2 linked regions of the Homo sapiens genome follow. The protein of the gene in region 1 interacts with the protein of each later gene in a pairwise test. Each region holds a gene or a part of one and is shown in the gene's direction. Other genes may lie near its edges.

Region 1 (7,035 bases):
TTTCACCGTGTTAGCCAGGATGGTCTCAATCTCCTGACCTCGTGATCTGCCCGCCTCGGCCTCCCAAAATGCTGGGATTACAGGCGTGAGCCACCGTGCCCGGCCCCTAAAGATGCCTTTTGAGTTTCATGTTGTAGGCGTCTTGTCTTCAAGACATGCAGACAAAATGAATGTATTCATTCAACAAAGTGATTGAGTCTGTGTGCATGAACTGAGAGGACAGTGAGACGGAGAAGTCCCTCCTGTGGAGCTTTTATTCTCGTGGAGCAGAAACCAGGCATTTGGCCTTCCTGAGCGCCCGTCATGCCCTGTTCTTTCTGGTTGCATCCCATTTTAGAGCTTCCCAGCATGGCCAGTGATTCTGATGACAACCATCCCCTCCCAGTGTGTTTCACGTGCATCTGCCTAGAGTCCGTGAGCCACAAGCCGTCTCTCAGCCTCTTACGAATCGGGCAACCCACGGTTAAGGACATTTCCATTCTCCGGCCCACTGTAAGAGTGAATGTAGAGGTGCTAGGTTTTACCTTTGTGTCCGTGAAAGGGGTGAAAGGAAGTGTACAGGGACCCCAATGTCCTGCCCTCTTTCAGGGACTCAAACAATTTCCAGGTGGGGCTTGAATCACCACACATCCACCTTAATCTGACTCAGGCATGTTCTTCACATTAATACTGTCATTTCAGCTACTGAGTTATTTTTTCTCCTCTTTTTTTTTTTTTTTGCAGCAGAGCCGTTGCCTGGCCTTGAAGAGAAACCACCAGGTGTTGGTACTTCAGAGGGGGTCTACCTCACACAACTACCTCACCCCACACCTCCCCTGCAGACTGACTGCACCAGGCAGAGCTCACCACAAGAAAGGGAAACAGTGGGCCCGGAGCTCAAAAGCAGCTCCTCCGAATCTGCGGACAACTGTAAAGCAATGAAGGGCAAGAATCCCTGGCCCTCGGATAGCAGCTACCCCGGCCCAGCCGCCCAAGGGTGCGTGAGAGACCTCTCCACGGTGGCAGACAGGGGCGCTCTATCCGAGAACGGAGTCATTGGGGAAGCATCTCCTTGTGGATCGGAGGGGAAGGGCCTTGGTAGCAGTGGTTCCGAAAAGCTGCTCTGCCCCAGAGGCAGAACGTTGCAGGAAACCATGCCATGCACGGGACAGAACGCAGCGACACCGCCCAGCACAGACCCCGGTTTGACGGGAGGCACTGTGAGCCAGTTTCCCCCGCTGTATATGCCTGGCCTAGAGTACCCGAATTCAGCTGCCCATTACCACATCAGTCCAGGCCTGCAGGGTGTGGGCCCTGTGATGGGAGGGAAGTCCCCAGCATCCCATCCCCAGCATTTTCCCCCAAGGGGCTTTCAGTCTAACCACCCACATTCTGGAGGCTTTCCCCGGTATCGCCCCCCACAAGGAATGAGGTATTCCTACCACCCACCGCCACAGCCTTCCTACCACCACTATCAGCGAACTCCTTACTATGCCTGTCCACAGAGCTTTTCTGACTGGCAGAGACCTCTCCATCCCCAGGGAAGCCCAAGCGGACCCCCAGCCAGTCAGCCTCCCCCACCAAGGTCCCTCTTCTCAGATAAGAATGCCATGGCCAGTCTGCAAGGCTGTGAGACACTGAATGCTGCCTTAACTTCTCCAACCCGTATGGATGCAGTGGCTGCTAAAGTCCCAAATGACGGGCAGAATCCTGGTCCAGAGGAAGAGAAGCTGGATGAATCTATGGAGAGGCCAGAGAGTCCCAAAGAATTTTTAGACCTGGACAACCATAACGCAGCTACCAAGCGGCAGAGCTCGTTGTCAGCCAGCGAGTATCTCTATGGAACTCCTCCGCCTCTGAGTTCAGGAATGGGATTTGGTTCATCTGCATTTCCACCCCACAGTGTGATGCTGCAGACGGGGCCTCCCTATACCCCTCAGCGGCCGGCCAGTCACTTTCAGCCCAGGGCTTACTCTTCCCCTGTGGCTGCCCTCCCACCTCACCACCCAGGGGCCACCCAGCCCAACGGCCTCTCTCAGGAGGGTCCCATCTATCGCTGCCAGGAAGAAGGCCTGGGTCACTTTCAAGCTGTGATGATGGAACAAATTGGCACTAGAAGTGGAATAAGAGGACCTTTCCAGGAAATGTACAGACCATCAGGGTAAGATTGCATTCAGGCTTTTCCCCCTAAAGAGAGAACAGATGTTTATTTTATGTATTTATTTTTGAGACAGAGTCTCACTTTGTCACCCAGGCTGGAGTGCAGTGGTGTGATCATGGCTCACGGCGGCATCGACCTCCCAGGCTCAAGGATCCTCCTGCATCAGCTGTTTAAGTAACTGGGACTACACACATGCCACCACACCCAGCTAACTTTTTGGTTTTTTTTTTTTTTTTTTTTTGGTGGAGGTAGGGTTTCACCGTGTTGCCCAGGCTGGTCCTAGTCTCCTGAGCGCAAGTCATCCTCCTGCCTCAGCCTGTCAAAGTGCTGAGATTACAGGCATGAGCCAGCACACCTGGCCTGGATGTTCATTTTAAACAGAAAAATGGCCTTAGAGATGAAGATAACAGTTCATGGTCTAGGAACAAAAAAAATATGTGAATTATTGATGTTGTACACTCTGTAGGAAGGTATTAAACTTAGAGCCCAACTTTATCTTTGAAATTTTTTCCACTCATGAAAATGAACTGGCATTTAAATGACTGACTTAGATTTTGATATTGTAAACTTTATTTATTTATTTATTTATTTATTTATTTTTGAGATTAAGTCTCACTCTGTGGCCCAGGGTGGAGTGCAGTGGTACGATCTCTGCTCACTGCAATCTCTGCCTCCCAGGTTCAAGCGATTCTCCTGCCTCATCCTCCCAAGTAGCTGGGATTACAGGTGCCCGCCACCACACCTGGCTGAGTTTTGTATGATACTATAAACTTAATAACCACAGTTTGAGAGCTGTAAGCAAGCCTGTGTCAACATTGCTGCCATGTGGAGACACTCTGACCAAGGTAAAAAAAAAAAAAAAAATAGGCCTACCCAGGAGTAGAAGAGGAGATCATGTAGTATTGAAGTTTTACTACATACCTCTCATTTCTTACCCTATCATTGAATGAGAAAACCAGGTTTATCCAGAATGCAAACAAGTCCCCATGAGACTTCTTTCACACATGCTTGTGTAGTGTTGTTCTCCAGATCCAGTTAGGTGATCTGCCATCCAGGAAGTTTTCAAATCGATAGATACAAATGAAAGTTATGAAGCGGCCAGGCGCGGTGGCTCACACCTGTAATCCCAGCACTTCGGGAGGCCGAGGCGGGCAGATCACGAGGTCAGGAGATTGAGACCATCCTGGCTAACACGGTGAAACCCCGTCTCTACTAAAAATACAAAAAATTAGCCGGGCGTGGTGGTGGGCACCTGTAGTCCCAGCTACTCGGGAGGCTGAGGCAGGAGAATGGCGTGAACCTGGGAGGCGGAGCTTGCAGTGAGCCAAGATCATGCCACTGCACTCCAGCCTGGGCAACAGAGCAAGACTCTGTCTCAAAAAAAAAAAGTTATGAAGCATAGTCTTGAAACCAGTACCATTCAGCATAAAAACCAGTGTTCCCCTCCTCAGTGCCATCCTGTCATCTTATTGCTAGACCCTCTCTACTATTTAACATTTTGTCGTGTTTGCTTTATATGTCTCTAAATACCTGTTTTCTTTGCTTTGCTTTTTTTCCTAAGCTGTTGGAAAGTAAATTGTAGACATCATGGCCCTTAACCCCTCAATACTTGAGCATGCATCTCCTAAGAATGGACATGCCTTGGAGCACCATTTCAAAACGATTACCACACTCAAGGCAAATAACAGTATCTAATAGAGTTTTTGTTTCTGTTTCCTCAGTTGTCCCCAGAGTGTCTTTTAGAGTCGTTTCTTTGTGTTCTATTTTTATTGTTTTTTTCTGATAAAGGATCCAATGAAGGCTCATGGATTTGCATTTGGCTGCCGTGTCTGTTTAGTCTCTTAATTTATAGCAGTTGTCATATCTTTGTTTTGTTTTCCAAAGAGTCCAGGCCAGTTATCATGGAGAGTGTTCCAGATTCCAGATTCATCACACAGTCTCCTTGTGTGTAGATGAAACTCTTGTGCCAGGTGCAGTGGTTCATACCTATAATCCCAGCACTTTCGGGGGCTGAGGCAGGAGGATTGCTTAAGCTCAGGAGTTCGAGACCAGCCTCGGCAACATAGTGAGATCCTGTCTCTAGTGAAAATAAAGAACTTAGCCAGGCATGGTAGCACACACTACTCAGGAGGGTGAGGCAGGAGGAGCACTTGAGCCCAGAAGATTGAGGCTGCAGTAAACCATGATCCTGCCACTACATTCTAACAGGGTGACAGAGCAAGACCCTGTCTCTAAAAGAAAAAAAAAAATAGATTAAACACTTTTGTCAGGAGTGCAGTAGGTGGTGCGTGTGCGTGCCACTTACTGCCCCAGGGGGCACAGAATGTCGAGTTGTCCCAGTATGGATGATTCCAGGCCTGATCACCGGGGTGATGAAGGCAGTACCCTCGTGACTACAGTGTCTTGTTTCTTCTGTCGTTAACACGTCTTCATTAATTCTTCATTGCTTCTTTCTCGTGGCTGTAGAATGCAGATGCACCCGGTCCAGTCGCAGGCCTCGTTCCCAAAGACCCCCACAGCAGCAACATCACAGGAGGAGGTGCCGCCTCATAAGCCTCCAACACTTCCCCTGGATCAGGTAAGGATCACTAAAAATTAGAGCTGTTCTTCTTCCTCCAGGTGGTAGGAAGTAAGTATATGACAACCTTGCTGTTCTGAAAAAATGTTTTAAGGTATCCTGTGGATACAGGAACTTTGCCTGTATCGTGCTTCCTTGGCACTTGGAAAAAGAGCAAGAGGCCTCGGAAGTCACCTCTCACATGTCTCTTTTTCTTATTGTGATATGGAATGCATACCTATTTGGTGAGTATTTAAACCTCATTTTTTCCAAGCCATCTGCAAACATTTTTTCTGCCATGATCCCTTGTCTGTTTTATGCTTCCCACCTTTCTCATTGGAGAGAGACTAGTTGGTGGGTTTTAAAGTAGTAATAGCTGCCTCTGAGTGCTGCTTCTCTCCCATGCGTTGTCTCGTGCAGTGCTTCTCTCCCATGCAGTCTTTCCCTTGACCCCCACAAAGTAGTTCTCATTGGCTGCATCATCATCATTTCCCAGTGTGCAAGTCCTACTACTGTTAAGCACTGGGACTGGGATCTGAATTGAGAAGTCCAGGACTCTAGAACCTACCCTCTGGAAGTAAACTGTAACTGATGAAACAGAATCAAGCCATTTTCACACATGAGGAGCTTGGACATTCTTTGGCTTACTTAAGTTTTTTTTTTTTTAACAACCCAATTTTTATTTTTGTTTAAAATGTCTTTGTTTCTTTCAGAGCTAGTCCAAGGAGGAAATGAGCCCCAAGCAATGGAAAGCTGCACACGAAGACTGGAATGTGGAGAACTGGGGAGTGCCCTGTCAGCTCTATTCCCATCACCTGCTCCACCCCTTCACGGCGACCCACTCGTGCCATACTTGAGCTGGAGCCAGTCACGGGCCCTAAAAGGACACTCCTTAGATGACTGACACACAGATTGCAAAGGTCCTCGGCCAGGGATCTCTTGCACAGCTGATGTAGACAGTCAGGCAAAACTAATGAACGTGGAGTTAATGATGACTTTTCCAAATCCTGAGACACTTTTCAGGGAAAATCACTTTAAACTTGGGGGAGGGGGTATACTCAAGAATGGAGTGGTGCTTTTAAACTTTGATGAGCAGCTAAACTCAGGTATATATTTGGGGAAGGGACTACTCTTAGTATTAATGGTTTTGGAGCTGGGTCCAGTTTACAGAATTTTCATGTTGCCTTTTAAAATAATTTTTGTTGGTGGTGAATGTATTGTACATAAAGTGGGAAGGGTGGGTGGGGATGCGGAAGAAATGGGGGTCCTAACTGGTGGGCACACAGCACTGGAGTGATTTTTATCTGTTTACAATCATGTCACACTGAATACTTATGGGAGCCGGAGATGAGGGTAGGAAAGGTTTGATCTTGTAATATGTCACTGTGTTTCCTTAGTGGCCAGCCAGCCTTCAGAATAGCTAAAGGCCTTCCTTCCTTCCAGTCAGCCTGAGAGAGAACACCTGTCCCCTAAGCACCTGGTGTCTCCATTGGAGGCAGACTGCTCTCAGGAGACTACTAGAAGCTTCAGCCCGGAAGACAGGCTGCTCTCTCATGCTGGTGGCCCAAATTGAGAAAGTGGTGTCCCTTCCTGATTTTGCCACCAGCCCTACCGAATAGTTGTAAACCAGTATCAGGAATTGGGATCGCTAGAGTGTTTCACGTATTAGAAGATGAATCGTCCTCATCACAGACCTCCCTGTCAGGACTGTGATCTAGAAGGCATCACACACAGCTTTCTGGCACGAATCACATTTTGTGGAAGTGACTACTCAGGTTTGTATATTTTAGTATCAATAAAGAATTGCACAGGTTTGAATAGGAAAAATGTATTCTATAGATTTACAGTTTGAATTTAGGAATATTTCAGTATATATAGTTTTTATTCGTTTTAAGTGAATCATAGTAAAATCAGTCATGGTGATTTAAAATAGCTATCAAGAACAAGTTCTTGGAATTATCTGTTGTATCTGTGATAGGAAACCATTTTACAGTATTAAATTACTTTATTACAGTTGTAGAGTTGAATTACACTGGATTCTCCCTCGTTAGCATTCTGTATTTGATTTTAGCTGAAAGGTCACCAAAGTTAGGACCCATGTTTTAAACTTTTGAATATTCCACAAAAGAAAAAACTAAGGAAAATACTGAAATTACAGGTCTTTGTAAAGAATAGCATATTTTTAAGCATGCTTTTGGGATAGTAGAAGAGTCTCTATGAAATATTAATCTGCCCTAGTTTCTTATAAATTCAGCTGTGGGAGGGGCCAGTAGAGTGTTTCCCTCCAATTCCAGGATTCCTAGTGAAGCATGGAACTGTCGTGTTTACAGTTTGCTAA
Region 2 (7,035 bases), on another chromosome or scaffold:
ATGAAATAAGATGTGAAACAATACAAGAAGTTATTATTTTTAGATGATGTGATTGTTTAATCTGCAAAATCCCAGAAAATCAGCTCACAGTAATTAGCTGGACTCACTAAATGTTTAAGAATCCATACCTCTTCTAGTTATAAAAGAAAATAGAGAAAAGAATCCAAGAAAGTATAGCTACAGATAAATAAAATATTTAGGACTATCCTTCAAAAAGTGAGTAGGACCTATGTGAAAAAAACTACAGGATAAAGACAGATTCTTCCTTCACAGTTTTGAATACATCTAGAATACATTTTGATAAGTTGATTTTTTTTTAAGTTAAAAACTATATAGATAAATGTTGACTTTCAGAATGGAAAAGGATTTTATAAGTATAAAAGGAGCAGAAAAGTAAAGCTAAAATATTGAATCTCTAAAAATTAGAAATTTCTGTATGTCAGTAAGTCATTGAACTGGGAGAAATATATGCAGAAAAGGTTACATTCTAAAATAGAAAAAAGCATTACACAGCAGTAATAACATTAATTCCTCCATATAAAGATTAACAATGTGTTATTATATTAACATTCTTTACAGATAGGTCTCTCCTGTATAAGTGTCTGCTTTATAAGGATGGAATCCATGGCTTCTTTATTTTCCTGTTTGACAGTAGCATGATGCTTTGTGTATAATGGCATTTGATACATACTTGTTGAATTAATATTGCCAGAAACCTTGTAGTTTGCCAGTTTGACTCTTGTTTACAGATTTATAAAGATACAAGAGATCTTTTAGCTTAAGTAACTTGTCCAAAATTACAGAATGAGCTGTTGACAGATCTGAGCTATCTGTAAGATGGGGCTGATAATAGTGTCTCAAAGTTGTTGTGAAGTTTGAGTGAGCCACTATATGTGGAACACTTAGCATAGTGCCTGAAACATAGTATGAAAGAAACATATCTGTTAAGATAAAAATGTGTATTAATTTAATGGAACAGCTCTCTGCTGCCTAAAATCACATACTCTCACCCCCAGATACTAACCATAGGCCTGTATGGTCACAGGCAGTTGAATAAAGATGTGAAATTTAATGCATGAAAATGTAGTGAGACATGTTACCACAAAATTGATATAAAGACCATGATGTCATGACTCAGTAGAGTAAGGCTGTGTGGTAACCTTATTTGATGTGGCCCTAAACAGTAGGGATACAAAGAAAACAAAGGTCATTAGAATACAGATAATTAACAAGAGCATACCATAGATCATGTTCATCAGCTGAAAATGGAATGCATCCTTAAAATGAAGGCTTTGAGTGACAGAATTGCCAGCACAGTCCTACTGTGTGAAAGAACTGAAGTTACAATCCATTCTTCACAGTGTGTCTGTAATGTGAGGACTGCTTTATATAGAAAAATCTTACAGTCACTTTTAAATATAGGGATATTGTCAGCGTTTTCTAACAGGAAGATAATTTTGTGCTTCATAAGTAAGAGGCCTTTTAATATCCGAATAGGCAGTTACTTGTAACTATACAGTAACTCAGTAATTACTGTCTTACATGCTTAGCTTGCTCTGTGTGACAGAGTATCTGTGTAGATAGGTCTGAGCGCCAAGATGGATGGGTGAAATGCTAAAGTGATAGTTTTACTCTTTTTGTTTGTTAAATTTAGGTCCACTTTAAAGCATAGGATTTTCAATGCTTTTCTAAAAATTCATTTTAAATTTCATTTGTAGGTGCTGTGTATGATGTGAGTCACTATAATGCTTTACTTAAAGTCTATCTTCAAAATGAATATAAATTCTCACCAACTGATTTCCTGGCAAAAATGGAGGAAGCAAACATTCAACCAAATCGAGTAAGTAGTTGCTATTGTGAATATATTTTCACATCCACCATTTTTTTTCTTTACTCAGAAAAAAAAGTATATTTAAAATTAACTGGCCCATTTCATTGACAGGTGACATACCAGAGATTGATTGCTTCTTATTGTAATGTAGGAGATATTGAAGGTGCCAGGTATGGATCTGTATGAACATGTTTAAGCGAACAAATTTGTACATTTTGTAAATCTAATGTCTGTTCACTCTTTGTTTTAAAGCTTCTTCCTAATGGAGGAAATTGTTTCAGAACTGTTTTAATCTAGAAAATCTGGTAATCTGACTTACATAAAATATAAAATTATCGTGTAAGAGAGAAAAGATAAGTAAAAGTTGCTATTTTAATTAAAAATTTGATTTACTGGAGAGAGGTATAAAGTTGTTGAGCTATAAAGCTGACTTTGCTTTTTTTTTTTTTTTTTTAAATATTTCCTAAGGGAAATGTTCTTAACCATTTAAGCTGTATTCATTTATAAAACTGGAAGTAGTGTAGAAAATCAGTTGCACCATTTCTCTGCTTATGTAAAATTTATTACTACTTATGAATGGAAGGTTTGGAAAATAAGGGATAAATTGGAATACATAATTTCATTTTTATCTAAAAGAATCTTATGAAACTATGCTTTTAAAAGGGTAATTAGTAGTGTAAGACAAATCAGATAATCAGATTTTTAAAAATCTAGTATTTGTATCGATAGTACTTCAAGACTGTTGATACATTAGAGAGTGGGGTTTTGTGGGAAGGGGATCAAAGGGATTAGTTCTTTCTTTGTGGTTTCTAAAACAAATGTATATTACTATTATATTTTAAAAACAAAAGTAACTCAAGGCCTAATTCTGTACATGTTGTAAAGAGTGTTCTTATAAATACTTTCAATGAGTATCTTCGTTTTTCCTTTGCAGCAAGATTCTTGGATTTATGAAAACTAAGGATCTCCCAGTTACAGAGGCAGTATTCAGTGCCCTTGTGACAGGGCATGCCAGAGCTGGGTAATGTTCAACCTAAGGTTTTGGTTCTTAAGTGATAGATGGCTGAGATGCTAAAGTGGTCATTTTACTCCTTTTTTGTTTGTTAAGTGGGGTTTAAATTAGAGAAAATTATTGTAGACAGTTCTTAAAATACATTTGTCTATCCCTTCAAAAAAAAATCTGTAGTATATGAGGTAGAGCATACTAATATTTTTATAATGAGCTTTTACATTTGTTCCACAAATCTTTCTTTTATTTGAATTTTTAGAAATTGGGCTTGAAGCCGGGCGTGGTGGCTCATGCCTGTAATCCCAGCACTTTGGGAGGCTGAGGTGGGCAGATCACCTGAGGTCAGGAGTTCAAGACCAGCTTGGCCAACATGGTGAAACCCGGTCTCTACAAAAATATAAAAATTTAGCCGGGCATGATGGCAGGTGCCTGTAATCCCAGCTACTTGGGAGTCTGAGGCAGGAGCGTTGCTTGAACCCGGGAGGCAGAGGTTGCAGTGAGCCGAGATTACACCATTGCACTCCAGCCTGGGAGACAGAGCAAGACTCCATCTCAAAAAAAAAAAAGAAAAAAGAAACTGGGCTTGATCTGATCTGAAGTAACTGCTCTGGAAAATATTTTTATTTTTGAAGAGTAATTTACTAAATGTTATTCTTACCTCGAAAGTTAAGTCTGAGTCATAACCTACATAATATTAAGAGGGTATGTTATTTAATGTCTATGTAATTATTATTATTTTTTAATGGGGGATCAGATGTTTATGATCTTTATTATTTCAGAAACATATATCCAGTTTAATATACATTAGTTCTTTTCTGACATCATAATTCCAAATGGTACTTAGCATTTTTTATTTTAATAAGCATATGTTTTAGTTTGAATAACTATATTAAATTTGGCAAAAGCATAATAATCTGTTTTTTGAATTAACTTGTAGTGATATGGAGAATGCAGAAAACATTCTCACAGTGATGAGAGATGCCGGAATTGAGCCTGGTCCAGACACATACCTCGCATTATTGAATGCATATGCTGAGAAGGGCGACATTGACCATGTTAAGCAGGTATGACTTATGTCTAAATAAACATACTTTAAAATCATTTGTAAAAATTTGTGTTATGTTTTACATGAGGCAGGAAAGTGAAGTTTATACCTGTTTTCAAAGATGTTTCCTTGCAGAAAGTAGTATTTATGGAGAATTATTATAGTTTAGTATCTCGGTGCTGGTATGTAACAGTTACTGTTGAAGTAGAGTATTTCCTGTTTTTTAAAAGAAGTCGTAAACCTTTAGGTGGTATTTTTCCCTAGTTTTTTGAATCTGGATATTTTATTTAGCTTTAATACTTAAATAAAAACACTCTAACTTTGTCTTCTAATTTCTGGAACTCTCTATAGACTCTGGAGAAGGTGGAGAAGTCCGAGCTTCACCTTATGGACCGTGATTTACTGCAAATTATTTTTAGCTTCAGTAAAGCTGGGTATCCTCAGTATGTCTCAGAAATTTTGGAAAAAGTTACATGTGAAAGAAGATATATTCCAGGTAGTTTTAAAAAAATCTATTTACATGATTTTTATAAAAATCTGAATTGCTATTCTTACATGATGGAAAGGACATTTTCTAACAATGGGCATTGTGGGAGTTGAACATAGAACTCTTAAAGTCAGTTAAATAAGCCCAAAAACATGAGTTAATGAACACATGGGGATGATTTGATTTGCAGGTGTTTTATTGTTATTTAGGCAGTTATATGCTTTTGATGTTTGCAATTCTTATTTTGTCTTCAGTATTGGAACATTGGTTGCAGTGTAAAAATATTGTTCAGTTTATTAACAAAAGATGTCTTTGTTTTCTTCCCAGATGCAATGAACCTCATTTTACTTTTAGTCACTGAAAAATTGGAAGATGTAGCGTTGCAAATTTTACTAGCATGCCCCGTATCAAAGGAAGATGGCCCAAGTGTCTTTGGCAGTTTCTTTTTACAACACTGTGTGACTATGAATACGGTATTCTGTCCACTTTTACTTTGTAGACAATGTAATTGGCAGTGAAATAAGATTCTTTAAAGTATAGGAACATTTATAAGATTAGACCAGTTGTAAACATCATAACAATGTTCTTGTGTTGCAAGATTTTTGGGTAGAAAGAGGATGCGGGGTTTAAAATGCTCATCTCAGAAGTGGTAGAATATTTGCAGCAGGTCAAACGGTGGGGTGTTTGCCAATCCAGCTAATGTGGTGACTTTTTTCCCACAGCCTGTGGAGAAGCTAACAGACTACTGTAAGAAGTTAAAGGAAGTCCAGATGCACTCCTTTCCTCTGCAGTTCACCCTCCATTGTGCTTTACTCGCCAATAAAACTGGTACTACATTCTTAAAGTTAAAGCCAAGTAAGGAAGTTTTGCTGAGGTAGCTTTGTGATCTTTTATGATATCTCTTTCAGATTTGGCAAAAGCCTTAATGAAGGCTGTGAAGGAGGAAGGTTTTCCTATCAGACCTCACTATTTCTGGCCATTGCTAGTTGGACGTCGGAAGGAAAAAAATGTTCAAGGTTAGATTTTGCCTTTTACCGATTTGTAATGGTTCCCAGAGCCAGTATGACAGTTTGCACGCACATCTAATTGGATTCTTTGGAAAAGCATACTTATTCCTGAGTATTATGAGATAATGGAATTGTTTTAAGTCATCATGAAGTATTATGTGTAAGCATTTTAAAAAACAAAACATGATGGATTTCTTTCATCTGAATTTCATTAATTTCATTTCTTATTTCATCTCTGATCTTGATATTCAAACTTAATGAACGTAGTTTTTTTAAGTTCTTAAAAAAACTCTTTAGTTCTTGATTTTATATATAGTGTTTGAAATCAGATTGTCTACCTTTAATAAAGATAAAGTTGTATATACAATTAGGTTCATGAAAACAAAAAGTATGGTCATTTTCTTTGTGGGCCAATCTATTTCTTTTTAACTGAGCTTAGTTAGAATAATAGGAAAGGCAGGAAAACTTTTATTGTGAAATGAGTACTCATGACCTGACAGCCTGCTGATTGAAGGACAAAAATGTTCAATCTTTCAGGTTCTTAAGTACGTTTAAGCATTTATCATACTTTTCCCTTGTACACATGGGATGTCTATAGGATATGAATAAGAATTGAACAAATATTAAATTTTAGAGTACAGTATCTAATTCTTCGGTTTGCATTATTGGTAATTCAGAAAGAGTAGTCTCATAAAAAGATGCTTTTAACAGAAGTACTTTCCCCTTGGGGAAACAAAAAATGGTCTTTTTCATTTTATCTCGAAGTATAATGTGCTTTGGAATGAGATGCAGAATTGTTAGTGTGACATTGGGTGACAAACAGAATGCACAAACAACAAAAAAAGTGCTTTTAGCAGACTTTCATATTGCAATTTTATTTTAAATGTACAGCCGTCTTCTGGTTTAAAGGAAATAGTGAAACAAGTATTCCCTAATTGTTTCTGGCTATAAAAGTCTCTAAATCCTTTTTAGAAAAATCTTTGTGAAAACAATATGCTAGTTTGATTAACTCTTTGTATATCCTCCAGTCTGAAAGCTCCAAAAGGTAACCTATAACCCAGTGTTTTGGAACCACAGAAAGTTTACATCATTCCATCAAACTCTTCAGGCATGTTAGTATTGTCCACCTTTACACAAGTATGAAAATTTTTTTGGTACCAGTTGAAATGTTTGTTCATCAGGTTAATCTGCTTTCCACAACCATGTCACAGTTGAATTGATTACTACATTTTTACTACTTAGTAAACATAAAAGAGTTAGGTAATTTCTTTCTATGGTTGTAGCAGTTGAAATAGTAGAAAATGGGCTTTATCTCAAATCCATCTTGTCTTAGAATCTCAGAATTTAGATTTTAAAAGTGCTGTACTGAAAGCTCACATTACGTGAATGAAGGAACTGAGGGCCACACAGACATTCAGTGACTGACCTTAGCTTCCACGTCTAGGTGTGATTAGGCTGGGATTAGAATAGAGGGTTTCTGTCCTCCTTTTAAAATATCCTTTTTTATACTATAACCCTTCCATATTCAGCTTTTGTAAGTACTATACTGTGTTTATTTTCTAAAAATTCTTAGCTGCTGTTTAAAAATTAGTTGCCAGTTTTTACACGAATAACATTGCTAAAAGAGAGTGAATTTTTTAATCGATGAAGGTTTTG

What was found.
Region 2: the proteins of CECR2 (region 1) and LRPPRC interact in a two-hybrid assay, tested with the Homo sapiens proteins (one study listed by BioGRID).

The regions. Positions count from the first base shown.
Region 1 is NC_000022.11:17,547,425-17,554,459, forward strand, and holds part of CECR2 (chromatin remodeling regulator CECR2), read left to right. Parts: intron 1-723; coding exon 724-2,140; intron 2,141-4,606; coding exon 4,607-4,718; intron 4,719-5,410; coding exon 5,411-5,416; 3' UTR 5,417-7,035. UniProt on the Homo sapiens protein: Regulatory subunit of the ATP-dependent CERF-1 and CERF-5 ISWI chromatin remodeling complexes, which form ordered nucleosome arrays on chromatin and facilitate access to DNA during DNA-templated processes such as DNA replication, transcription, and repair.
Region 2 is NC_000002.12:43,971,960-43,978,994, reverse strand, and holds part of LRPPRC (leucine-rich PPR motif-containing protein, mitochondrial precursor), read left to right. Parts: intron 1-1,718; coding exon 1,719-1,840; intron 1,841-1,942; coding exon 1,943-2,001; intron 2,002-2,765; coding exon 2,766-2,852; intron 2,853-3,777; coding exon 3,778-3,904; intron 3,905-4,236; coding exon 4,237-4,381; intron 4,382-4,699; coding exon 4,700-4,845; intron 4,846-5,094; coding exon 5,095-5,200; intron 5,201-5,280; coding exon 5,281-5,388; intron 5,389-7,035. UniProt on the Homo sapiens protein: May play a role in RNA metabolism in both nuclei and mitochondria. In the nucleus binds to HNRPA1-associated poly(A) mRNAs and is part of nmRNP complexes at late stages of mRNA maturation which are possibly associated with nuclear mRNA export.